7 linked regions of the Homo sapiens genome follow. The protein of the gene in region 7 purifies or fractionates together with the protein of the main gene of each other region. This does not show direct contact. Each region holds a gene or a part of one and is shown on either strand. Other genes may lie near its edges. The genes, in order: NDRG3, MARCHF6, TPCN1, ANO6, SLC12A6, SLC12A7 and TMC4.

Evidence for each region.
Region 1: the proteins of TMC4 (region 7) and NDRG3 purify together in Homo sapiens (affinity purification with mass spectrometry; one large-scale study listed by BioGRID and IntAct). This does not show direct contact.
Region 2: the proteins of TMC4 (region 7) and MARCHF6 purify together in Homo sapiens (affinity purification with mass spectrometry; one large-scale study listed by BioGRID and IntAct). This does not show direct contact.
Region 3: the proteins of TMC4 (region 7) and TPCN1 purify together in Homo sapiens (affinity purification with mass spectrometry; one large-scale study listed by BioGRID and IntAct). This does not show direct contact.
Region 4: the proteins of TMC4 (region 7) and ANO6 purify together in Homo sapiens (affinity purification with mass spectrometry; one large-scale study listed by BioGRID and IntAct). This does not show direct contact.
Region 5: the proteins of TMC4 (region 7) and SLC12A6 purify together in Homo sapiens (affinity purification with mass spectrometry; one large-scale study listed by BioGRID and IntAct). This does not show direct contact.
Region 6: the proteins of TMC4 (region 7) and SLC12A7 purify together in Homo sapiens (affinity purification with mass spectrometry; one large-scale study listed by BioGRID and IntAct). This does not show direct contact.

What each region holds. Positions count from the first base shown.
Region 1 is NC_000020.11:36,652,091-36,655,590, reverse strand, and holds part of NDRG3 (protein NDRG3), read left to right. Parts: intron 1-751; coding exon of another isoform or gene 752-790; intron 791-1,889; coding exon 1,890-2,071; 3' UTR 2,072-3,500.
Region 2 is NC_000005.10:10,409,195-10,412,694, reverse strand, and holds part of MARCHF6 (E3 ubiquitin-protein ligase MARCHF6), read right to left. Parts: intron 2,557-3,500; coding exon 2,419-2,556; intron 1,363-2,418; coding exon 1,158-1,362; intron 1-1,157. UniProt on the Homo sapiens protein: Endoplasmic reticulum membrane-associated E3 ubiquitin ligase that plays a critical role in mitigating endoplasmic reticulum stress, the regulation of cholesterol and lipid homeostasis, and ferroptosis.
Region 3 is NC_000012.12:113,276,964-113,280,463, forward strand, and holds part of TPCN1 (two pore channel protein 1), read left to right. Parts: coding exon 1-72; intron 73-276; coding exon 277-401; intron 402-1,225; coding exon 1,226-1,274; intron 1,275-1,808; coding exon 1,809-1,872; intron 1,873-3,187; coding exon 3,188-3,232; intron 3,233-3,500. UniProt on the Homo sapiens protein: Intracellular channel initially characterized as a non-selective Ca(2+)-permeable channel activated by NAADP (nicotinic acid adenine dinucleotide phosphate), it is also a voltage-gated highly-selective Na(+) channel activated directly by PI(3,5)P2 (phosphatidylinositol 3,5-bisphosphate) that senses pH changes and confers electrical excitability to organelles.
Region 4 is NC_000012.12:45,222,595-45,226,094, forward strand, and holds part of ANO6 (anoctamin-6), read left to right. Parts: intron 1-3,500. UniProt on the Homo sapiens protein: Small-conductance calcium-activated nonselective cation (SCAN) channel which acts as a regulator of phospholipid scrambling in platelets and osteoblasts.
Region 5 is NC_000015.10:34,327,782-34,331,281, reverse strand, and holds part of SLC12A6 (solute carrier family 12 member 6), read left to right. Parts: intron 1-3,500.
Region 6 is NC_000005.10:1,074,064-1,077,563, forward strand, and holds part of SLC12A7 (solute carrier family 12 member 7), read right to left. Parts: intron 2,750-3,500; coding exon 2,631-2,749; intron 2,174-2,630; coding exon 2,075-2,173; intron 1,428-2,074; coding exon 1,308-1,427; intron 609-1,307; coding exon 504-608; intron 1-503. UniProt on the Homo sapiens protein: Mediates electroneutral potassium-chloride cotransport when activated by cell swelling. May mediate K(+) uptake into Deiters' cells in the cochlea and contribute to K(+) recycling in the inner ear.
Region 7 is NC_000019.10:54,170,361-54,174,370, reverse strand, and holds the start of TMC4 (voltage-gated chloride channel TMC4), read left to right. Parts: upstream 1-1,210; 5' UTR 1,211-1,253; coding exon 1,254-1,332; intron 1,333-2,269; coding exon of another isoform or gene 2,270-2,287; coding exon 2,288-2,501; intron 2,502-4,010. Other genes in the region: membrane-bound acylglycerophosphatidylinositol O-acyltransferase MBOAT7, read left to right, coding at 1-327. UniProt on the Homo sapiens protein: Voltage-gated chloride channel involved in high-concentration salt taste sensation. Depolarization induced by high NaCl concentration may trigger the activation of TMC4-mediated chloride influx into taste bud cells, helping the return to resting potential.

The sequences.
Region 1 (3,500 bases), on a different chromosome or scaffold from region 7:
CAGGAGAAAAGGGCAGTATCCTTGGTAAAGTCTCCTCCACCCCAGGGGACGAACTTGGAGAGTGTTTTAGAGCAAGTCCAAGGGTGTGTCCATATCATATGCCATTGTCCTGGTCTCTTGTATTGTAAGACCTCTGAGCTTTTTCATGGTCACAGAATTATCTACACTTGCTCCTTTCTTGGAGTTTTTAGAAAAACTCTTTCACCCAGGTACAGAGCTCTTTACCCAGTAGGGTGATTTTTCTCCTGTCTTTGGTATTAGTGTGGATAATGGTCATTGGCGAGCTGTCTGGTCAGCTGCTCTGGGCAGCTGGGCCCTGGGTGCAGCCCTGTACCTGCCAGGCAGACCATGTATGTCTTGTCTCAAGTGGCTGTGTCATCCTTGCCTGTGAGCCGCTACCAACCGAGCCCACACCCACAGCCCTGTGGCTCACTGGGAGGAGCAGGAGGCCCTCTCCTAGTCCATTCTTATCCTTTTCCTATGAAATAGCTGATCTTCCAGCCCACTTCTGATCCAAAGCAAGATGACTGTTTATAGCAGAGGGGAAAACAATTGCCTTTGTCTAGTTGAGGAAAGTAACATTTGAGATGTTATTGAAGTATCTGTCAGCCTCACCTCCTCTCTGGGACCTTAAAATAAAATTTTATCCCTGGCTTAGAGTATTCTGTCAGTGTCTACCAGGCAGCTGAGGTTGCCACTTGGCACTCTGGGGTCACTAACCTGCCTTTTCCTGTGTCCATCCTGCTTCCAGTCCCGTATGTGCAGCTCAGTCACCTGAGCACCGAGTCAGGTACCTTCCTCTGTGCTGGCCCTGCCCCGCCTTCCAGTCTCTCCTGGCTGCACTGGCTGCCTGCAGCATGTCCGCGGTCTTCCTATGCAGTGAGAGCCCGATAGAACGTGGCTCAGTACGCCCCAAGAGATTTAGCCTACAGGTCCAGCCCTGGTCCCCCAGGAGGAGGAAAGGATCTGGTTGTAAGGGGCAGGCCTCCTCTTGTCATCCTAAATCCAGGGTCACAGCAGCAGCTGAAACTTGATAGGCAGGGCCCATCTTCCACCACCACCTACTGATCCTTGAATTAACCTCCAGACACAGGAATCCAAGGGCAGCCTTGGCTCTAAATAGGAGGGTCAGAGCCTGTGCCCAGAGAACTCTGCAGATGATAGCACCTTTTGACCCCAGCATTGAAATGACAGCTAGGGGAGTGGCTGCTGCCCAGGACGATAGGCAGGGAGGCTATGCCAGGTAAGGCCCAGTCCCAGCCAAGCTGGAAGGACCTTAGAGTCAAGCAGTGGCAGAACAGGAGTCTGAGTTAAACACCTGCTTCTCTGTCCCTGGCAACCTGTACCTCATCCCTGTGTTGAGGTCAGCTCCAAGCCAATCTGCCCTCCCCTTCACCTGCACCATCCTACAAATCTCCTCCCTGGTAGCAAGGTAGCCTGTGGACACGGATGGTAGTCTCGTTGTATCGGGCTTGCACTGTGTTTGTGAAACACCTTCATACTTGTGTGTGTGTCTTTCTTTTCTTTTGGTTTAGTCTTGCATGCACTGTAGGTTTTGGTTACCTGTTTGGGTTCCCAAAGCCTCCATTCTGTCACTGTCTGAATGGTGTGGGCATAGTTAAGAGGCTATACTCTGGATTTAGGGTTTCCCCTTGTTCTGCGGTGACTACAATCAGCTGAGATTCCAACCAGATCTAAAGGATTAAAGTGGCCTCACATATCGCCACTCACCTAGAGCAAATGATACAAAATGGGGATGGCTATATCTTGTCCTGGGTGTCATGGTAAATGAGTCGGAAAAGCTAAACATAAAGACTTTGATGAGACTCCTAGGTTAGCTGGGCTTAACCGGGGCTTCATCTTCTAGTCCCCTTGGTTCTCTGTTACAGTACCATCTGCCAGCATGACTCGGCTCGCCCGATCACGAACCCACTCAACCTCGAGTAGCCTCGGCTCTGGAGAAAGTCCCTTCAGCCGGTCTGTCACCAGCAATCAGTCAGATGGAACTCAAGAATCCTGTGAGTCCCCTGATGTCCTGGACAGACACCAGACCATGGAGGTGTCCTGCTAAGCAGATGCTCCTCCCCTGGACCATTGCAAGTCCATCCTTCAAATGACCACTCCATAATATAACATTTCATCCAGTAAACTGGCCTCTACTATCTTTAACTCATGCATGGCCACTGAACCTCTCTCTAGTAGCCTGGATTTATCATTCTCTCTGCCTGCCCACCCCCTTTTTTGTATAGCCCAAGAACCACTTCCATGCCATACTGTAACATTCCAACATCTTTAGCTGATCAGATCTCTCCATATCCTCTCTTGCCAGCTTTTTCCCGTGCTCCCCCAACTATGTATCAGATAAGATTCTTTGATCCCGACTCTGTGTGTGCGAGCACGCGTGTCTGTGTTTGTGTGTGCATAGTTCTGTGGTTTTAGACACGCTTTCTTGTAGTGCTTCTGCAAAAAACAAAAAAGGGACTTATTTTGCATTCTCAATGGTGTTTTTAAGGGAATTAGGCAGAACAGATTTCTAGGTTGGGTAGGCCACTGCATTCTCTTTTGTTTGCAAATTGGTCAACAAAATTTGCAAAGTGATTTCAGGAGAGAGCAGCTTTGAGGAATGTGGAAAATCATAATTGCCGTCTGGACCATTGATTGATTGTGACCAGTAGCAGAAGGGTGCCTGTTACATAGAGAGGCTCCTTCTGTCCAAATGAATTTCTGTATACTCTTCTATAAATAAAAGGGAGGAATATATTCTGCTGGAAGCCCATGAACCATCGCTGAGGTTCTGATACAACATAGAGTTTTTTCCAAGGAGTGAATGTGGTTTAATTACTGGACTCTCTTAGCACAGGAAGGTGGAAACAAAATGCCAGGCCTCTGCTCTGAAGAGCAAAACTGCTGTCGCTGCAGTATCTGATACCAGACATCCACATATCCACAAGAAGTGCCTCTTAGGTCTGTGACAGAGAGTGTGTCTCCATTCCTCAGTTCCCAGAAAGGGGAGAGGTTTGGCCTAAAAAGCATGTAGATGGGGGAGAAATGGGTGGGGGGAGAGGAACAGCCATTAACACAGTATCATGTTTAACAAGTATAGCCTTGATTTCAGTAGATGTAATGGAAGCCAAATTAAATTGATACAGAACCCATTTCTCAGAGTCTTTTTTTTTTTTTGAGACAGAGTCTCGCTGTTACCCAGGCTGGAGTGCAATGGCGCAAACTTGGCTCACTGCAACCTCTGCCCCCTGGGTTCAAGCGATTCTCCTGCCTCAGCCTCCCGAGTAGCTGAGACTACAGGCACCTGCCACCATACCCAGCTAAGTTATGTATTTTTAGTAGAGATGGAGTTTCACCATGTTGGCCAGGCTGGTCTCAAACTCCTGACCTCAGGTGATCCACCTGCCTCAGCCTCCCAAAGTGCTGGGATTACAGGCATGAGTCATTGCTCCCAGCCATTAGAAAGATTGTTAATCCTATGAACTCCCTTTTGTAGG
Region 2 (3,500 bases), on a different chromosome or scaffold from region 7:
CTGAGTAGGTAGGAGGATCGCTTGAACCCAGGAGGTTAAGGCTACAGTGAGCCATGATCGCACACTGCAACCAAGCCTGGGCAACAGAGCAAGACCCTGTCTCAAAAACAAAACAACACAACTCTCTTATCTGCAATTCTAAGCCCACCATGCCTAATGTGCCCTAGTCCTGACATATTCCTGGAATGCCCTTCCCACTTCCTTTTTTTCACTCTCTGACAGGTCTCTCAATGTTTAAGACAGTTCAGGCACCACCTATTCTAGGAAGATTCCTTTGGGTCCATATTAAGAACAAGTGGTTCTTGATTGAAGGAGTCACAGCACCCACTGTAAACACCAGCATGAGAGCTCAAATCTGCCACTGTCTTTCTCATCTGAGTAGACTGTAAGCTCTTTCTGAGCAAAGACCACGTATGCTCTCTATATCCTCACAGACACTGAAAATATCAATCATAGACACTTAAGACATGTTTGCTGAATGACTGAACACATGTGACCCACAGTAATCTACAAAGGTATAATAATGACTATTTTTACAAAAAAAGAAATGTGAGGCTGAGAGGTTAAATAACCTGCCCAAGTTTTAAAATGATCAGACTCACAAGCCCATGTCATTATTAAAGGGCATTTTAAAATAACAGACTTGATATAAATGATGACTTCACTGTAATCATATAGCAGTCATCAGCTTACATTTCTGACAAAATTCTGAGGTGCACAAAGATTGATCACTTGCTAACGAACATGTAATAGGCACATTCTTAACCAATATTGCCTTCAGTTTCCTTAGCTATAAACATGAAATTATCGCCTACACTTTGCAGTATTTGAGTGGAGATTAAATGAGAAAACATCCAAATGCCCATTCTAGTTCCTGACACACTGTTGAAATGTATCAATAATGTTAGTTTCTTAATTACTCTAGAGTCTTTTCCTCTTAAATAGGGAGCAAGAGCCCAGGGAATCCCAACTCTTTGACTTATCTCTAAAATTTGATAAACTTACCTAATCATTTACGTTACATAATGAGGGTAATAAAATGTGGAACATGTCTACACAGAGGACTGCATACTAATAGCACCAATTCTCAACAGCAATTTGGAGAACAAAAAAACCAAAAAAACCTCTATATGTGATTAAGTCTGTATAGCACCTACCCTGAGTGGAAAATTTAAAGGTCGGCGGTAAGGCTGAAAGCCAACAGGCCCTCCCTGCTGGAGTATGGCTTGGTGGGCTGCATGAAGGCCTTCTCCCACCACAGGAATAGCGTTGTTATTTCGAGCATGCTGATTATTGTTAACTTGTTGATTTGCACTGTTTTCATTTTCTTCCTGGTCTCCCAATAAATAAGAATGAAGATCCCTGTGCAAAAATTACATCAGTAACAAGTCTCACTTCAGGTCACAATAAAATGGCAGACATGACACTCATTTTCTTCATATTTACTACTAAGGGTAGAAAATGTATAATACAGAATTTGTGCACCACATTATTACCTAATTTTGGTCTAAATGTTTGTACCCACTTTAAATCAAACCTTTCTAATGTTAATGAACTTGTAGGATATCCCATAAATTCAACCTATTTTACGTTTTCTTCAGCCAGTATCTGAGAAGAAATCAGTAACTGAAAGAAAAAAGTACAATGTACAAGATACTTACAAGTACACTTGTAAGTACAAGAGGTAAGTACTTACAAGCACAAGGTGTAAGTACATACTTACAATGTACAATATTGTTAAGGATCTACAGGAGGAAAAGAAAAACTTCTTATCTTCTCTACAGATGACTACTGCAACATGTAGCTACAAGCTATAAATTTGTAAAACCTCCAAGCTATAAATCAGTTAGGTCAGAAATGAGACTGGGGGAGGAAGCAGTTAGAGGACGACAGATGTTCAAGCAAATATAACCAAATCTGTACTTCACCTTTAAGATACCTACAAGATGCCAAACTGAAAAACTTTTAAAGATTCAACTTTTAAATAAATATAGAGTATATAAAGCTTGGGGAAAAAAATGCAACATGTTCACTAGAAGATTGAGAAATCAAATTTGAGAAGAACCCATTTCCCAGGTTATGAGCACTAAATAAAGGTAAGTTAGTTGGTCTAAATAAAGGTAAACTGGTTTGTTTTTAATGCACTAAAAAAAAAAAAGACATTTACTCCATGAAAGCTGGACCAGCAGCAAACTTCTATAAGAGGGCAAAAAGATGTATATATTCTCCATGAAAGGATGGACAATAAGAAAAAAAAATTTCATTTAGAAGTATTATATGCAATTGCAAATATTACTAAATTGTCTCTTATTAAAACTAATTTTTCTTGAGTGGGCCATGGAACATACTTTTTCCAGAAAGGTTATTCCATAGTCACAAATGACATGCATGTCCAAGGAGTCAGCTGCCCATACTCACAGCAAGTATCCGGCGGTCACAGTCCACGCTCGCACCAGCCCCTTCAGCCACTGCCTCGTGTGTCCCTGTTCGAGTAATGCTGGCAAGACAACCTGAAGCAGAAGCAGCTCGAGGGACAGTTCACTCACTGGAGCATCACTGAAAGAGGCAGGATTTATAATGTGAATTGTATTTTGCATATGACTACTATTTAATGGGATTACAACGCAACTTCTTAAGAATCTAATAAACTTACTGTCTTTATTACCTCTCCTTTCATTCTCTCTCCAACTCAGTGAGGCTTTCCCCACAAACTCCACCAAATTGTTTCTGATAAGGGTCACCAAAGACTTTCATTTTGCTAAACTGATGGGTAGGTCTTGGTTCTCTCCTCACTTGCTATATTAGTAGCATGTTACACAAAAGGTCACTCCTTCCTTTGACACCTCACATCCAAACAGCTAGAGAATCCTTTTGACTGTACCTTAACAATATCCTAAAAATTTCTCAAGGCCTCCACTGCTACCTCCCCTTCATCTCTGCCACCCTCACCTCTCACCAGGATCATTGCATTATCCTCCCAGCTGGCTTCCTGTTTCTGACCTAGCCACTCCAACCCAGTTTCCTCTCATCACAGCAGTCAGAATGATCCTCTTTAAACCTAAGTTAGATCACTCCTTTGCTCAAAGCTTTCCAAGAGCTCCTCAATTCACTCAAGCAAAAGCCAAAGTGCTTATGTCGTGTAAGACTCTCTAGGAGGTGGCTCTCCATGACCTTTCTGACTTCAGGGCCAATTCTTTGCCTTCCTCCTCCTACTACAGACAAACTTGCCTCCCTGCAGATCCTCAAACAGACCTGGGTGCCACTGCACCTACTTTCTGCAAGAATATTCTGCCTTCAGGGATCCACGTGGCTCACTCTCTCAACTCCTTCAGGGCTTTCCTCAACTGTCACCCCCTCAGGTCTTTACCAGTCACTATTCCTAAATTGTAACCCCATCCTGCCCACTTTCTATACCCTTACTGGCATTTTTTCTGCCACTTTAAATAATCAGGATATAAGTATTTTCCAATTCTAATTTAATAAAATACAAATTTGAGATT
Region 3 (3,500 bases), on a different chromosome or scaffold from region 7:
AAGTTCAAGTCTTTGCTACTGCACAAGCGAACCGCTATCCAGCATGCCTACCGCCTGCTCATCAGCCAGAGGGTAGGAACTATGGGCCAGGGAGGGGCTTGGTCCCTGTCCTCCCTCCCTTGCCCAGAGCAGCCCCTAAGCATGGCCAGGCCAGCCACTTTAGAAACCAGGAACCCTGCCCTTGGAAGAATGAACAGAGCTGGAGTGGATCTGGAGTGGGTGCCCCAAGGGAAGGGGAGTAGCCTGGGTTCCACACTGCTCTTCCCTCTCCCCCAGAGGCCTGCCGGCATCTCCTACAGGCAGTTTGAAGGCCTCATGCGCTTCTACAAGCCCCGGATGAGTGCCAGGGAGCGCTATCTTACCTTCAAGGCCCTGAATCAGAACAACACACCCCTGCTCAGGTAAGAGCAGATGCCTGGTAGGGGCAGCATGGCCAGACAAGGTGTTCACGTCTAGAGTGAACGGGGGCATGTGAAGGCCCTTGAGGTGGGCAGGCCTATAGGCTTGTCAGAGACTTCCTCCACAGATGTTTATCCATGTAGACTTACACACTGGATTCATCAGGATGCCTTTTGCAAGTGACAAAAGTCCAACACAAATCCAATTCAAGCTGACTTGAGAAAAAAGGAGCTCATGAAGTGGACTGGCCCAGCTGCTGGCCCTCGAACCCCCAGTGGGGTGGGATAGTCCCATGTGAGCCAGGTGGACAGACAGGGGTGAATATACTTCCCCAATCCCCTGCACACACCTGGCTCGGCCGCAGAGAACTGACCCGAGATCTCCAGGGGTAGGATTGGTCTTCCAGGCTGTTGATGACCAAGCCCTGTCCACAGCAGCCTGCTGTGGAGCTGAGAACAAGCCCTGTTTGAGCTGAACTTGCAGTCCCAGGTGTTGCATTAAGGCCCCTGCTAAAAAGTGAAGTTTCCGTCCTCCTAAGAATCCTAGTGCTCCAGCAGCTGCCTCTCCAGGGCACTGACACTGTCCGTAGTTAGTGCCATCGGTGGAGACTTAAGTGGATTACATATTTGTAGTACCTCAAGGTCAGAGGAGATCCAAACGCTTGCAGGTAAAGGATCCCCCAGCACTGCTGTGCTGGGACTCACATGGTGTCCCCTCTCTTCCTCCCTCACCCCATAAAGGTGTCCATAGGCAGGCAAGTAAGAGAAGCAAAGCACAGTGGAACTATGTTCTGATATTTTGTCCCTTTTTATTTTGCTTTTGGTAGCCTAAAGGACTTTTACGATATCTACGAAGTTGCTGCTTTGAAGTGGAAGGTGAGTTCTTCTCTGAGACCATAGAAGGAGTAGACAGAGAGGTCCCCACGTGGGGCAGTGAGGAGCAGGGGCACCCCGAGATCCAGCTCTCTCCCTGCTAGAGCAGCTCAGCCCCCAGCTTGGCATGGTACACTTCAGGGATCACAGGTGGCCCCAGCCCCCAAATCTGCCCTTACATTTGTGATACAGTGTCATCGTTAACAGCACCGAATCTTACTTAGACCCCATTGGTTATTGTGTGACATCAGGCGGGTTACTGAGCCTTTCTGAGGCTTGTCTTACCTGGGAAGTGGCGTAAGGATAATCCCTACTGACAAACCTCATTTCAGGACTATACTAAAATAAGGCCTCTGCATGGCACATTGTAAACGCTCGGTACACACTGGCTGGCTGTGTTGTCATGTAGATCCCTGAAGGTTAACATTGTTCCCCAGTTTAGCAGGGTGAACAGGAAAGGAAGCCAGCATCCTGGCTCCAGGCAGGGCCCTGGTCCCTGGCCCTGACACCCTCCCTCTTGGTCCTGTTGTCTACCAGGCCAAGAAAAACAGAGAGCACTGGTTTGATGAGCTTCCCAGGACGGCGCTCCTCATCTTCAAAGGTAAGTGGGCTTGAGTATGGCAGGTGTTGGCAGCTGGGGGCCGATGGAGGTTTTCAGAGACCACAGATAAGCGTCTGAGGAGAGGTTCAGAGGGGTGTGTGTGTGTGTGTGTTTGTCTGAATGCCTGTGTGAAGAGACAGTGTGATTACCCCAGCAGGGACGTAAGGGTGGTAGGAAGCAGATTGGGAGAGAAATGGGTAACTTAACCCAACCAAAATGGGTAACTTAACCCAACCAAGACATTTGGGGTATTTTTCTTTTTTCATACAAAAGCAAAGATGTTCATTGAAGAAACTTGAAAGTGAGATAATTAGAAGTAAATGGAAATTTACCACCCAGATAACCACTGTTAGTTCTCTGATGTGTTTCCCTCTGTGCCATTTTTCTATGCATTTTTAAAACAGTAGGGTGACATTATATATTCCATTCTGTAATCTGCCTTTTCATCCAATAACACATATGTGTGTGTGTGTATATATATATGTGTGTGTGTGTGTGTGTGTATATATATGTGTGTGTGTGTGTATATATATATATATATATATATATATATATATTTTTTTTTTTTTTTTTTTTTTTTTTGAGGCGGCGTCTCGCTCTGTTGCCCAGGCTGGAGTGCCGTGGTGCGATCTCGCTCACTGCAACCTCCGCCTCCCAGATTCAAGCGATTCTCCTGCCTCAGCCTCCCGAGTAGCTGGGACTACAGGCATGTGCCACCATGCCCGGCTAATTTTGTGTGTGTGTGTTTTTAGTAGAGATGGAGTTTCACCATGCTGGCCAGGCTGATCTTGAACTCCTGACCTCGTGATCCACCCACCTCGGCCTCCCAAAGGCCTGGGATTACAGGCGTGAGCCACTGCGCCCGACCCCGATAATATATTTTTGCCCTCCTCTTATGGCAGGATGTATACTTTGCATGACCCCTTGAATAATGCTTGTGTAGTGTAAAGTTTGAAAATTTGAAATTGGGTGCTCGTATTATTTACCTGACAGTTGCCCCTTAATTTCATGCCAGTTTCAGCAGTGATCAGGAGAGCTTTGTCCTGCTCTATCTTGGTTCCAGGTTGCTCAGGCTCCCCCCAGAGCAGCTGTAGTCAGTGCAGTCTTGTCTGGGGGTCTGAGCAGAAGCATGGGTACCACTCTTTGAGCAGGACCCTCCTTTCTTCACCTCTGGGGTAAAGACCATGCTTACCTGCATGCACGAAGAGTGTGGTAGGTGGTTGCACCTGCCCAGAAAGAGATAATAATAATTAAGGATACAGTAGGGGGAACAAGTGCGTAAATTTACATTTTAACTTGTCTTTTCTTCAAATAGGTATTAATATCCTTGTGAAGTCCAAGGCCTTCCAGTATTTCATGTGTAAGTGTGAAATATCTCCACTCTAGGCCACTTTCCCCCTGAGTCCTTTGCTGTTCTAGAAGCGGGAGAGGCAAGAGATTGGTCCTAGAGTCCTGTGTTTGACTTTTTATTGTGGGGAATTCCCAGCATGTATAAAAGTGAAGAGAACATTACCACACGCATCCCCGTGCCCATCACCCATCTGTATCTTCACTCCGGCTCATCATCCTCTCTAGACCTAGATTTTTTGGAAGCAAATTCCAGAACCACAGAGTTGACTGGTCGATAT
Region 4 (3,500 bases), on a different chromosome or scaffold from region 7:
TTTAGGCCTCAGAAGCAGAAGCAGGCCTCAGAAAACAATCTCCATCTTTGACCTGCCCTATTTTTACCTTTGTCTCTCCAATTTTAGAAACTAAAACTATAATCTTTCCCCATCTTTCTGTGTGAGAACTGCCCATAAAGAAATTCTCCCATCTACCTTGTCTGAATGTAGGCCATAAGACCCCCATTTCAGAAGGGATCCTGCCCCATACCCTGGAGGAAGGAATGCTGCACAGAGATGCCAGAAAAATCTGATCAGACAGGCCTTGCTGGGTTTCCCCATTCAGTCTATTAGTATTAAATCGTATGCTTTTTGTCCAATCACTTTTCAACATGGTTCAATCATGACTATCCAATGAAGTCTCCATAAAGGTCCAAGAGGACTGGTTCAGGGAGTTTCTGGATAGCTGAACAGTGGAGGTACCTGAAGGTAGCTTGCCCTGGGAGGGCGTGAAAACTCAGTGCCTTTTCCCGCATACCTCACTCTATGCATCTCTTCATCTTTATCTTTTATAATAAACTGGTAAACGGGAAGTGTTTCCCTGAGTTCCCCAAGCCACTACAGCAAATTAATGGAACCCAAGGAGGGTGTCGTGGGAACCCCAATTTATAAACAGTTCATCAGAAGCATAGGTAAAATGACCCGGGGCTTGTGATTGGCATCAGAAGTAGTGGGGGGCAATTTTGTGGGACTGAACCCTTAACTGTGGGATCTGACACCATCTCCAGGTAAATAGTGTCAGAATTCACTTGGAGGATACCCAGCTGGTATCCACTGCAGAATTGATTGCTTGCTTGTTGCTGGGGAGAAATCCTTGCACATTTGGTCACTGAAGTCTTCTGTGTTGATTGTTGAATAAGAGAATAGAAAAAACACTTAGTGTTTTTCTGCTCACAGCCTCCCTCCCCTCCCAAGTCTGTCACAAACCCAGAAAGTTGTTAATGATCCTCTTAGCCCAAAGTGCTCACAATGAATTCTCACTTATTTTTTTGTTCTATGCAGTTAGCATTCATCCTGTATTTTGTCTTTGTTATTCATTATCTTTGCGTTTATCATTCCCATAACCATAGTGTACATTTCTTGGTGACTGGCCTAGGTTATTTAAGTCTTCTAGAGATCATGCAAAATATCTTAAATATTGTACATATTCCATTGCTATAATTTTTAAGAGTTGTCTCTTTTCCTCATTCTCCTCTAAAATGTAAGCTCCCTGAAGACTGGTACCTTGTGTGTTTTGTGTTTTAAGCTGTGTCCCTCATGGCACCTTGGTAGGAGCCAAGCAAGTAATTGTGGAAGGAATGGATGATTTATTCTTCTAAGATAACTTGATTAACATAATGCCTAGTGGTTTTATGGCCCTAGTAGAATTTTCTTCTTCTGTGGCACTTTGAGATACCCCCAGTTATCTGTTCTAAAAATGCTGAGTGTATGTATTTTACCAGGCACTCTGCTAGGTTCCAGGTTCACTGTTCTCTAGTACCTCACTGTCTAGAAAGGAAACGGATAATTTCAGTAACTTGTGATTAATACTGTAATCAAGATCTGTACCAGGTTCAGTGGTGATACCAAGGAGAAAGCACGTGACCTTGCCTAGGGGAATCCAGGACAGCTCTATTGGGGCAGCACCTGAGCCAGCCCTGTTGGGATGAAAAGACAGGTGAGGGCATGGGGCTAGGACAGCAGAGCGTCCTGAGTGTTTCTAAAGGCATGATGATTTCTCAAAAATTAAATCTTGATACACCCTGGCCTTATTCACGATGGCAAGGGGATCATGTTGTGTACATATCATAAATATATACACATGTATAAATATGTATACATTATATATACATATGTGTGTGTGTGTCTGTATGCACACTCTCTACCAAGGAGATGACAGCTAAAAACAAAGCAAACTATCCTCAAACTCTCTTTTAGAATAGTCTTGCTTCTTTTTATAAACCTTTTGTTATTTTCAGTTTCAAGTCCACAGACATGATTTATCTTGCACATTCTTTCAAGTCAAATAATAGCTTTCCAAAAGGTCCTCCAGTATCCTCTTAAAATACTTTATTTGGTTCTGAGACAAACACAGCTCTAAAAGAATAAGAGTTACTCTTACTTAATTTGTATTTTAGCTGTATACACACTCGTCTTTTCTCAAGGGGTTGCAGCAGTCACATATGTCGATTGCTCTACATTTATTATTTTTTCTTTTGGGAGCCTAGAAATTTAGACCAAATGCTCCTATGAAAATTTCCATCAGTTATATGGGATTTTAATTCTGATATTCTTGAAGGGAGATTATAAAGGATTAAGAATACCGGAAATAAAGGGCCGGACATGATGGGTCATGCCTATTATCTCAGCACTTTGGGAGGCCAAGGTGGGAATATTGCTTGAGCGAAAGAGTTTGAAACCAGCCTGGGAAACATACTAAGACCCAATCTATACAAAAACTGCAAAAATCAGTTGGGCATGGCACATGCCTGTGGTGCCAGCTGCTTTGGAGGCTGAGGTGGAAGATTCAATTGAACCCAGGAAGCCAAGGCTGCAGTGAGCTGTCATTGTGCCACTGCAGTCCAGCCTGGGCAACAGAGACCCTGTCTCAAAAAAAAAAAAAAAAAAACTCACGATTTGGCTTTAAATTAAAGGATGATATTGATCTCTTAGTGATATCTGTAGCAGATGATTAAAATGATTGTATTTTAATAAGTTTTCACTCTAATCCTTTAGGTTTTCTTCTGTTACACTTTACTTGGTGTGTATTTTGTATTTTAGCTGTACATCTTAACCAAAAACACTCGTCTTGAAGCGGGGAGAAGATTTCTTATTCATCTTTGTATCTCACAGCCTGAATATCGTAATGTTTTTCACATAGTAGATGTTCAACAAAACATATGTTTTGGGACATTTTTAGATTTTTTTTTTTTGAGATGGAGTCTTACTCTTTTTCCTAGGCTGGAGTGCAGTGGCAAGATCTGGGCTCACTGCAAGCTCCACCTCCCAGGTTCACGCCATTCTCCTGCATCAGCCTCCCGAGTAGCTGGGACTACAGGCACCCACCACCACGCCCGGCTAATTTTTTTGTATTTTTAGTAGAGACGGGGTTTCACCCTGTTAACCAGGTTGGTCTTGATCTCCTGACTTCGTTATCCTCCCGCCTCGGCCTTCCAAAGTGCTGGGATTACAGGCGTGAGACATTTTTAGATTTTAATGGAAGCTTTGCATGCCATATGATTTAAGCTGTCTGATTATAATGAATTCAGGGCTGGGTCTGTGCAAGAGTAGTCAATTTTAGAACAGAAAATATTTCCAATTACCTTTAGCCAACGAAATGTACTACTCAACTGATTGGTAAATCATATGTAAAGATACAGATTGAAGGAATTTTATTCAGCCAAATGATTGTCTTATGACATTATTTTTTTTTCTTTAGTTTTGTATTTTGGTCATTGCAACTAAAATTAATTAGCATCCATCCCAAAAAGCAGTTTGAAGAATACTGGTAGATGAGTATG
Region 5 (3,500 bases), on a different chromosome or scaffold from region 7:
TATAATCTCAGCTACTCAGGTGGCTGAGGCATGAGAACCTGGGAGGCGGAAGTTGCACTGCAGCCTGGATGACAGAGCGAGACTCTGTCTCAAATAAATAAATACCTCTACCCTGACAAACAAAACCTAACAAAAAACAAAATTATCATTTTTAGTCACACACCAAAATAAGTGAATTATATTGTTTTGCTAATCATAGGTGACTATTACTTATTATTATTATTGTTATTATTATTTTTTGAGACAGAGTCTCACTCTGTCGCCCAGGCTGGAGTGCAATGGTGCGGTCTCCACTCATTGCAACCTCCGCCTCCTGGGTTCAAGTGATTCTTCTGCCTCAGCCTCCCCAGTAGCTGGGACTACAGGCACGTGCCACTACACCCAGCTAATTTTTGTATTTTTAGTGGAGATAGGGTTTCACTATGTTGGCCAGGATGGACTATTACCTTTCTCTTAAATAAGTCTTCTATATTATATAATTATTGAATACTATCCATGTTTTACCTCAGCATTCTAATAGCTAAAATATGTTGATTTGGTACCTTCTTAGCTTGTCTGAAAGAAGCATCCTCTTGATAGTTTTGTTTTTTTTGTTTTTGTTTTTGTTTTTTTTTTGAGACAGGGTCTCATTCTGTCAACCAGGCTGGATACAGTGGTGTGATCACGGCTCACTGCAGCCTCAACTTTCTGAGCTCAAGCAGTCCTCCACCTCAGCCTCTTGAGTAGATGGGAACACAGGTGCACACCACTATGACCAGCTAATTTTTTTTTTGTAGAGACAAGGTTTTACCATGTTGCCCAGGCTGGTCTCGAACTCCTGCATTCAAGCAGTTAGCCCACCTCAGCCTCCCAAAGTGCTAGGATTACAGGCGTGAGCCACCGCGCCCAGCTGGTTATATACCTTAACTGTTTTTCCTCTCTTCTCTATACTCTGTAGCCAGATTAAACTTTATAATATACTGCTTTATACCACAAGAAGCAATCAGCCAAATCCAGAATATGGGAAGTTTTATTGGATAACTAGATTCTTCAACAAATAATTGGGATGGGGTGGAGGAGGAGTGATGGGAAGAGAGGGAAAGCTGTTACAGATAAAAAGAGCCGTATCAGCCAAATGCAGTGTGTGAACTTGGTTTGGATTCTGATGTGCATAAAACAATTGAAAAAAGATACTTTTGAGACGAGTGGGGGAAATTTGAACATGTACATGATATTAATATTAAGGAATTGTTAATTTTCTTATAGATGTTTATGACATTGTGATAATGTAAAGCTGTTATCTATAAAGATATATATTGAAGTATTTACAGGTTAAATGAAATGTACTCCAGCTCCTTCCTCCCCACTCCTCCCCAAAAAAGTTGGGGAGAGATAGACAAAACAAGATTAGCAAATGTTTATAATTTGTTGAAGTAGAGTAAAAGGTACATTTTACTATTTCTTAGCTTTTATCTTTGAAGATGTCTGGGAACTCCTGAGCTCAAGTGATCCTCTCACTTGGGTCTCTCAAAGTGCTAGGATTGCAGGCATGAGCCACCATGCCTGGCCAATTTTTAAAAAGGTTAAATTACAATTAAAGGATTTTCTTTTGAGTGTGTCCTAGAATGCTGTAGATATTTGATTAAATATCAGTGATCAATACAGTGATTACCTCAACTTCTTGTCTTTGATCTTCGGTGGTCTCTTCTGTGTCCTCACTAAGTCTTTCCATCATGAGCCCAAATTCTTTTGTTCTCAGTGGCATGTTTCTAGATTCCAGATTCTCATAAATTTTGATATTACCTTTACTGGAATGGAAGGAAATGAAAGAAGGTACTCCTGCAAACCTGGGAACCTTATGAAAGTTATGCTTTCCCATTTTAAAGCTGTTAGAAGAAGGGGAATGTTTCTAATGCTGATGTTTAAGGCAACTTATAATGCTGTAAGCTTTTGAATTATGGCTGCTGCTTCTTTTGCCCTTCGTGTCTAACATATACTTCTGGACTACTAAGAACTTTGTGCAAATTCTAAAAAGGCACTCCTTTGTGCCCTGAGCCATCATGACTTCACTGGAGAAGGGCAAGCTGGATTTCAACCCTCTTCCCCTTGCCCTTCTGGCTTAATGCCCTCGTGCACTGTCTACACAGCTGTAGCTGGTGAGCTTGTTGTTTCAGAATAATGAAGTTACATGAGTTTAAGTTTTTGGTGATGTGTGTTTCTGAGGAGTAGGTATGAAAGTTTGGAGAGCTATAGTGTAGGAATTATGTGAGCATTTGAATGTTAAAACAATGTATTCTTTTAATGAAGTTTTATAAGTTTTACAAGTATGTGGAAAAACAAGAAGCTATTCTCTGTTAAAACCCTGTAATTAGTGCTTCAGTGTATATATGTTTTTATTTTTTGAGACAGGGTCTAGCTCTGTTACCCAGGCTGGACTTGGGTAGGCAGTGGCTATTCAGAGGCACAACTGTAGTACACTGCAGTCTTGAACTCCTGGGCTCAAGCCATCTTCCCACCTCAGCCTCCTGAGTAGCTGGGACTACAGGCATGCACCACCATGCCCAGCTAACTTTTGTATTGGCTTTTGGTAGAGATGGGGTTTTGCCATGTTGCTCAGGTTGGTCTCGAACTCCTGAGCTCAAGCGATCTGCCCATCTCGGCCTCCCAAAGTGCTAGGATTACAGGTGTGACCCACCGCACCTGGCCCTGGTATACTTTTAAGAATCTCAACAATTACATTTGAAGGTACAAGCACAAAACTGCAGAACATACAACATATACACATGCATACAGCACCTTGCCTTAATGGTAGTTCAGTACCTGATGAGTAGGAAACACTATCACCATATTTGCTCAGCTCTAAGGTGTGTACATTACCATATTTTAACATTTCTGATATTCAGGTGCGTCTTACTTTTGAAGAATTTTTAAGCTACTGTTAAAGTGGAATTTATACTTAACAAGATTTCAGAATCAAGTCAGTATTGTAAATAAGTCAGTCTGAGGGGCTTTGCGAAACCTGAAGTTTTGAAGTTACCTTTGGATGTCTTAACTGAAAAAAATGTAACGGCTGAAGTTTTTTTCTTCTTAAAATTTCAGTTTTTGTAGTTGAAAACTGTAGAAATAGAAAACAAAAGCCACATTGTTAGGAAATGACAGGTCTTCTAATTTTAGTCTTTTTTTTTTTCTTTTTAAAATTTCCTGTTATCTTAGCTCAGAGCTGGGTTTCAGTCTCCAGTTTTCTAGCTAATTTAACCAATGGCAGCTTTTTGTTTGTAGTTTTATTACGGCATTGCTAATCCTCATTATATTTGTCGTGGCCTTGAGCAAAAAACTCAATTGATGACATTCACCTGTTTATAGTCATAACCATTTGGTAAATAACTTTAATTTTTGGCAAAGTAGCACCTGAATTTCTCTCATTTTACCAGACAGGTCTACATTTACTTTGGGGTAAAGCTATTTATTTTTCATATTGCTAGTTTAAAAAAAGAGAGAAGAGAGAACACTAATAAGTTAAA
Region 6 (3,500 bases), on a different chromosome or scaffold from region 7:
GCCAGGCAGGACAGGAGAACAGGTAGGTTAGACAGGTGGGACAGGTGACATGCTAGACAGGTGAGACAATGGCCCAGGACACACACCTGAAGCCCCCACCGAGGCCCTGAGGGGACAATGGCCCGGGGCACACCCGAGGCCCCCGCCGAGGCCCCTGAGGGGACAATGGCCCGGGGCACACACCTGAGGCCCCCGCCGAGGCCCTGAGGGGCAGAGGCTTCCCAAAGATGGCCTTTGCTTCAGCAGGAGCCACCCTCTCCCACCCCAAGCCCAGGGCTGTGCTGGCAGAGGGGCCGGCTCCCCACACCCCCACCCTGCAGCAGGGACACCCCCGGCCCCCAGCTGCGCCATCCGCTCTGCACCAGGCAGTGTTCACACCCCAGACCTTGCCTGAGCGGCTGAAGGTGAGAGGCCCCTGAGACTCAAAGGTCCCCACTCAAAGGCCGACCTCAGAAACAGCTCTTCTGTGCGTCTGAGGACCACGGGGCATGGGCGGTGCTCACCTCCAGTTCTTGGTGTGGGGGGGACCGTGCTCCACGCGCAGCAGGGCGTAGCGGGCGGCGTTCAGGGATAGGCCACGGATGCCATCGCCCCACTCCTTCTCGGCCCTGTGGGAAAGGAAGTCGGGGTTTGTCCAGCCGCGTACCTGGAGGCTCCTCTCCCACCTGGGAAAGGGGACTTCTGGGGGCAGGTGAGTTGGGGCAAACAGGACCCCCAGGAAAAGTCCCTGGATGAGGAGGGAGGCCTCCATGCCCACCCTTGCCCTGAAGGGAGCCCGTCCTAGGAGCCACCGGGTCAGAGGGTGCTGTGGCTGTGGAGGGAACGAGGTCTACGTCCAGCATGCGTGAGGTGCCTTCCTCACAGGACGGGGGACAGGAGGCCCATGACAGGGAAGTGGCTGGACCCCGGGCACGAGGCGGGTGCAGGTGGAGGGAGGGTGGGTGCTGGGGCACGGGGAAGGACGCCTGTGGCTGCCGAGTGAGTACAGACACAACCTGGGGACACCTCGCGAGACACGTAGCAGGAATAGTCAGCCGTGGGCTCACCGCCTGCTGAGGACGGCACGAGACAGAGCTCCAGGCTGGAGACCCTGTCCACAAGTGCAGGCACCTCGGCCTGGCTGGAAGTGGGAGGGAAACCCCAGCTTTCACAACACAGCCCACCTGGACGTGCTCCCAGCTGCCCCTGTGAGGGCACACGACGCTCAAGCCCCAGGGAGGCCCCTCCAGGGAGCTGCCCCAGGCATAGCATGAGAGGGGCCCGCCCTCCCGTGCGCCGGGTCTGTAAGGGGGGCTGACAGCGCTTACCCGCGGTACTCGATGTACTTGTAGATGCAGCCAGCGATGAGCATGGCGGACAGCGCGTAGTACCAGGAGCAGATGAACATCAGCGCCAGGCACAGGCTCATACCCAGAAAGGACAGGGTCCTGGGGGCGGGGCAAGTGGCTCGGGGCGGCCCAACGCCATGCAGCCCCCACACCTCAGCCACCACCACACGGACACTGCCCCTCCCTCAGTAAAACTCTCTGTTAACACTAGGAAAACAGTCACTGACGCCTGACGACCATGGCTGTACTCAACCACCTCTGAGGGGTGACGTGGCTCCCTGGGCCCCTGTGGGAGCTGTCACTCCAAAACCCAGTACATAGCTCCAGCTCCCAGCGTGCACACAGCACCTCGGCTGTGCATGCAACAAGGGGCTGAAGCGTCCACCCAGCGCCTGATTCCTGGGGAGGGGAGTTAAGAAGACCCACAGCCCTGATGGGCTACGCCCCAAGCCTGGGAAGGCTGGGCTGACCACGGGAGGTACAAGGCACATGCAGACACCTGGGCATCCTCGTAACCAGAGGCCTTCCTCAGGTGCAGTCTCATCAGCTGCGCAGGGGCTTACTCCGCAAAGGAACAGTCAAGGACGCGCTGGGGTCTTCAGGCCCAGAGCAGCTGGCCTTGTAGAGGCACCCAGTGTCCCAGCCTGTGGGGCTCCTGACGCCTGTGCTGAGCGGCCTCACCAGTGGCAGAGGCACCCAGTGTCCCAGCCTGTGGGGCTCCTCACGCCCGTGCTGAGTGGCCTCACCAGTGGTAGAACTTGAAGCGTGGACGCCAGTTGGGGGTACGTAGCAGGGTCTGCACGGCGCAGGCCAGGTTCACGAACAGGTAGCACATGAGGAAGAACCTGCAGGGACGGCCGGCCACTGATACGGGCCCACTGGGCCCCCCTGAGCCCCCAGTCACTGCCACCTGGGAGACCACCCTTGTCACTGTCCCTCCCACCTGCGCCTTGTCTCCCCATGTCTGTCTCTGCACGTGAGCTGACTCAGACTGATTCCGAATCAGGCCCCCTCAGGTTCCAGCCATCCTGTGACCACCTGGTCCATCAAGAGATGGGCCATCGTCCCTTCCCCAGCAGCCGTCTGTCCAGCCACACTGTCCCTGGCTGACCCCAGCGGGCGGCTGCCTGGAGGCCTGTGTACTTGTCTTCCCCGGCGCAACTCCCTTCCCGGCAGGATCCTGACTGCCCACAGCTGGCCATGCCTGTCTACTGCTTGTCCTGAGCAGGACCTCCCATCCACACTGCCCCACGCTCCAGGCCCATACACCCATCCCCAGGTCCCCGTCCTGTGGGGGCTCACATGGAGAGGATCGGGGCCACGCTGTCCAGAGAGGCGATGAGGATGCCAGTCTCGCAGATGAGGACTGTCAGCAGCAGCGCCCACGTGGGCTCCCCGTTGGCCTTCCCGTGGCCAAACACCTGCAGGGAGAAGGGCAGGAAGATGGGGCAGATGACACCACCCTTTTAGGAGAGAAGCTGCAGGCTGGTCAGGTCTAGCCCAGATGAATCTTAAAGACACAGACCAGCAGAAACGCCTTTCACAGTAGGTCCCCGGGACATCACGCGGCTGGCCTGGGAAGAAGCCCTGACAAAGGGCTGCAGCCCAGGAGGCTTCAGAGCTGTGCCTACGCCCGGCTTGCCTGCAACCTGTGTGGCCCCAGCCTGCCCCCCCGCCTCAGTTTCCCCGACCACACAACACAGGACCAGCGTCTCCAGGGCACTCGCGGTTCCCCAGACCCTGTGGTGACCTTTCTCATCAGGCCACCCTCACCTCCCAGAAGCTGAGGCCCACGGGGCCTGTGTGCCTGTCCCCTTCCTGGACACCATGCCCTAGGCCCGGCTGGGACTGAAGATGCAACCACACAAAGGCCCTGCGGGTCGGCACCCTGCCGAGGGACCAGCGACGGGCAAGGATGGCTCTGCCATCCACGACCTTCCCACAGCTGCCCCTGGGCCCAGGTAGCAGGAGGAGCCACAATCGGCAGCTCTGGGCACAGCACACGGACAGGACCCATGCGGGCGTCCGTGCAATCCTCAGAGCAGCCACACACACTGGCTGCAGGTGGCTGGTGACGCCACCTCCCACGGGCTGAAGAGCTCAGCCACACAGAGAAAGATGTGGCAGGCAGGCAGAGGGCTTCTGACCAGACAACAGACCAGGCACCTCTGG
Region 7 (4,010 bases):
AGCTTCCTGACCATCCCGCTGTGCCTGGCTGCCGAGGGCCGGCTGGAGTCAGCCCTGCGGGGGCGGCTGAGCCCAGGGGGCCAGAAGGCCTGGGACTGGGTGCACTGGTTCCTGAAGATGCGCGCCTATGACTACATGTGCATGGGCTTCGTGCTGCTCTCCTTGGCCGACACCCTTCGGTACTGGGCCTCCATCTACTTCTGTATCCACTTCCTGGCCCTGGCAGCCCTGGGGCTGGGGCTGGCTTTAGGTGGGGGCAGCCCCAGCCGGCGGAAGGCAGCATCCCAGCCCACCAGCCTTGCCCCGGAGAAGCTCCGGGAGGAGTAAGCTGTCACGACGCTCCCTCTGCCAGCTGGTCCCGGGAATTCTGTGAACCAGGCTGCTGTCTCCTCCCCAGAAAGAGTCCTTACCTTGGAGAGGGTCCTGGAGAGAATTTCCTCTTCCCCAGCTAAATACCCTGCCTGCAACTGAAGCAGACCCGGGGGTGTCCTCCCTGCCCTCTGCCCAGAGGCCACCTCCACTCCTACAAAATCAAAGTATTGTCCAGACAAGAGTCACTGGCCCCTGCTCCAGCTTCTGGGTATCCAGAGAGCACTGCACTTCCCCAAAACGGAAGGGGCCCCTGGGCAGTGGGTTTTGGGCAAATTCCCTTTCTTTGCATCCACAATGTGGGGTCGGAGCTTGGGGGCAGGTCCTGGGAGTGGGAAGCCTCTTCCTTGTGTCTTTCGCTCCACTTTTAGCTCATCGCACCAATATTGCAGACTTGGAAGGAAGCATAAGCTTCCCATTTCACAAAGGGGAAACTGAGGTGCGGGTGCGCGGGCCTGGGGACGGCCGTCCCATGGCTTCCATCTGAGCCACCTCGGGACCCCAGCACTCCTGGCGCCCTCTTCTCATCGCTTGGCCTATGACAGGTCACCGTGTGTAAATCTTTCCCAATAAAGTGTTGCACAAAGGCATCGTGTCCGTGCAGGTATCTGGGTGATAAACGGTGGGAAGGACTTAGTCCACCAAGTCCCAGGGTGAGGTACAGCCCCCCCGCCCAGCCCAGGAACCAAACTGTGAGGCCCGGGGCACCACGGGGACTTCAGCTCCCAGGAGACCTTTCGCATCAGCGGCCCTGAGAAACCACAGGAAGTGTACCTTACTCCCTCCGGGCCACCTGCTGGCCAGGTACACACCTGCCCCTGGCCCCTCCCTTACCTGGGGCAGTGTCTGCCTGGTGGCCACTAGAGACAGCCCAGCCTGGGGCCATGGAAGAAAACCCGACCTTGGAATCAGAAGCCTGGGGCTCCTCTAGGGAGTGGCTGGCCCCCCGGGAGGCCAGAGGAGGTAGGGAATGCCAGGAGAAGCTCAGATCCATCCGACCTTCAGGCTAGGTGGGAGTCCTGCTGGAGGAGGAAAGGGGAGGCCTGGCCTCCTGAGTCTGAGGGCTAAAGAGAGAAGGTTCCACTTCCTGATATTATGGGGGAGAAGGGAACTGGAGGCTGGAACTCCAGGGTCTGAGGAGGAGGAGCCTGGAGAACCAGGCTAGTCTGGGAGGAGGGGAGGGCTAAGGGCTGGGAGTTTGGGTGTCTTGGGAATAGGAGAGGCTGGGTTCCCACACTCCTGAGCTAGAGGGAAAAGGAAGTTAAAGCCTGGACTCCACTGCCCTGGAGTAGGAGGGTTCCACGCTTGGGGATGGAGTTGAGGGCTGTGGACCCCTGGGTCCAGGGGAAGTAGAGGCTGGCACCCGGACTCCTGGGCCTGAGGGAGGAGGGGCTGGGAACCTGGTTTCCTGGTCTGAGGGAGGAGGGGCTGGGTGCCTGGATTCCTATGTCTGAGGGAGGAGGAGCCGGGGGCCTGGACTCCTGGGTCTGAGGGAGGAGGGGCCGGGGGCCTGTTCTCCTGGGTCTGAGGGAGGAGGAGCCGGGGGCCTGGACTCCTGGGTCTGAGGGAGGAGGCGCCGGGGGCCTGTTCTCCTGGGTCTGAGGGAGGAGGAGCCGGGGGCCTGGACTCCTGGGTCTGAGGGAGGAGGAGCCGGGGGCCTGGACTCCTGGGTCTGAGGGAGGAGGAGCCGGGGGCCTGGACTCCTGGGTCTGAGGGAGGAGGAGCCGGGGGCCTGGACTCCTGGGTCTGAGGGAGGAGGAGCCGGGGGCCTGGACTCCTGGGTCTGAGGGAGGAGGAGCCGGGGGCCTGGACTCCTGGGTCTGAGGGAGGAGGGGCCGGGGACCTGGTTTCCTGGTCTGAGGGAGGAGGAATTAGGGCCCAGACTCCCGGGTCTTCCCAGCCCCCTGCTCCTCCCCAGGCCCATCGCTGTCTTCTGTGCTGAACGAGCTGCCCAGTGCTGCCACCCTTCGGTACCGAGACCCTGGGGTGCTGCCTTGGGGGGCGCTGGAGGAGGAGGAGGAGGATGGAGGAAGGAGCAGAAAGGCCTTCACAGAAGTCACCCAGACAGAGCTGCAGGACCCTCACCCTTCCCGGGAACTGCCCTGGCCCATGCAGGCCAGACGGGCACACAGGTGAGGCCCCACCTCCAGCTGGGACCCGCACAGCCCGGACCGGGCCCTTCTCCCATACCCTGGACTCGGTCTCCTCCCTCTGTCCTCTGCCGCTCCTGGCTTCTGGGGCCTCTCTCTGCCCCGCTCAGAGCTGCCTCTCTTGGTTTCTTTCTTCCCCTCATCTTTGTCTCTACTTCGGACTCCAGGTGAGTGCTGCCTTTCGATGGCTCTGGGGTCTCTTCTCTCTGGGATTTGCCGTCTCCCTGGTCTCCACCAATCCTGTCTCTGCCTCAGTTTCTCTCTGTGTGTGTGTCCAAAATCTGTTAATATTTATTTCTCTCTGCTTTATACCTTCCTTCATCTTTGCCTCCTCTTCCAAGCCTCCCTCTCTTTAACTTCTTTCTTTTCCCATTCTCACTGCATAATTTGCAGGGCCTGGTGAACAATGAAAATGCAGGTGCCCTCCTTCAAAAATGATTATGGGCCCATTGCAGTGGCTCACACCTGTAATCCCAGCACTTTGGGAGGCCCAGGCGAGTGGATCACCTGTGGTCAGGAGTTCGAGACCAGCCTGGCCAACATGGCAAAACCCCAACTCTACTAAAAATACAAACATTAGCTGGGTGTGGTGGCGGGTGCCTGTAATCCCAGCTACTCGGGAGGCTGAAGCAGGAGAATCGCTTGAACCAGGGAGATAGAGGTTGCAGTGAGCCAAGATCGTGCCATTGGACTCCGGCCTGGGTGATAGAGCGGGACTCCATCTCAAATATATATGCGTATATATATGCATATGTGTGTATATATATACACATATATATGTATATATATGTGTATATATATGGAAAAAACAATAAAAAATAACAATGTATCAACACTCCCACACCGATCAGTAGTGGGATCATGCCTGTGAATATAGCCACTATACTGCGGCCTGAGTAACATAGCGAGACCCCCATCTCTATTTTTTAAAAGTAATAATCAAAGTAACAATATGACAAAAAATAATACAAGTTAAAAGAACAGCTATCTATATAACATTTACCTTGTACCGGGTGTTATAAGTAATCTAGAGGTGATTTAAAGTGCATTGGAGGGCTGGGTGTCGTGGCCCATACCTGTAGCCCCAGCGCTTTGGGAGGCTGAGGCGGGAGAATTGCTTGAGCCTGGAAGTTTGAGGCTGCATTGAGCTATGATTGCACCACCGCACTCCAGCCTGGACAACAAAACGAGACATTTGTCTGTAAAAATCAGATAAAAATTAAAATAAAATAAAATAAAACAAACACAGGAGGATGTGTGTAGCCTGTATGCAAATACTATACCGTTTTATATAAGGAATTTGGGCATCTACAGATTTCAGTATTCTTGGGGAGTCCTTGAACCAACCCCCATGGATACTGAGGGATGGCTGTATTCATAAAGTGAGAGCCCAGATAAACTCCAGCTAGGGCAAGTGACACGGCATGACAGCACCCTGTGCGTCCCTCCCCTGACACCCCCTTTTTCCTCACAAATACAAGGTAACCTCTT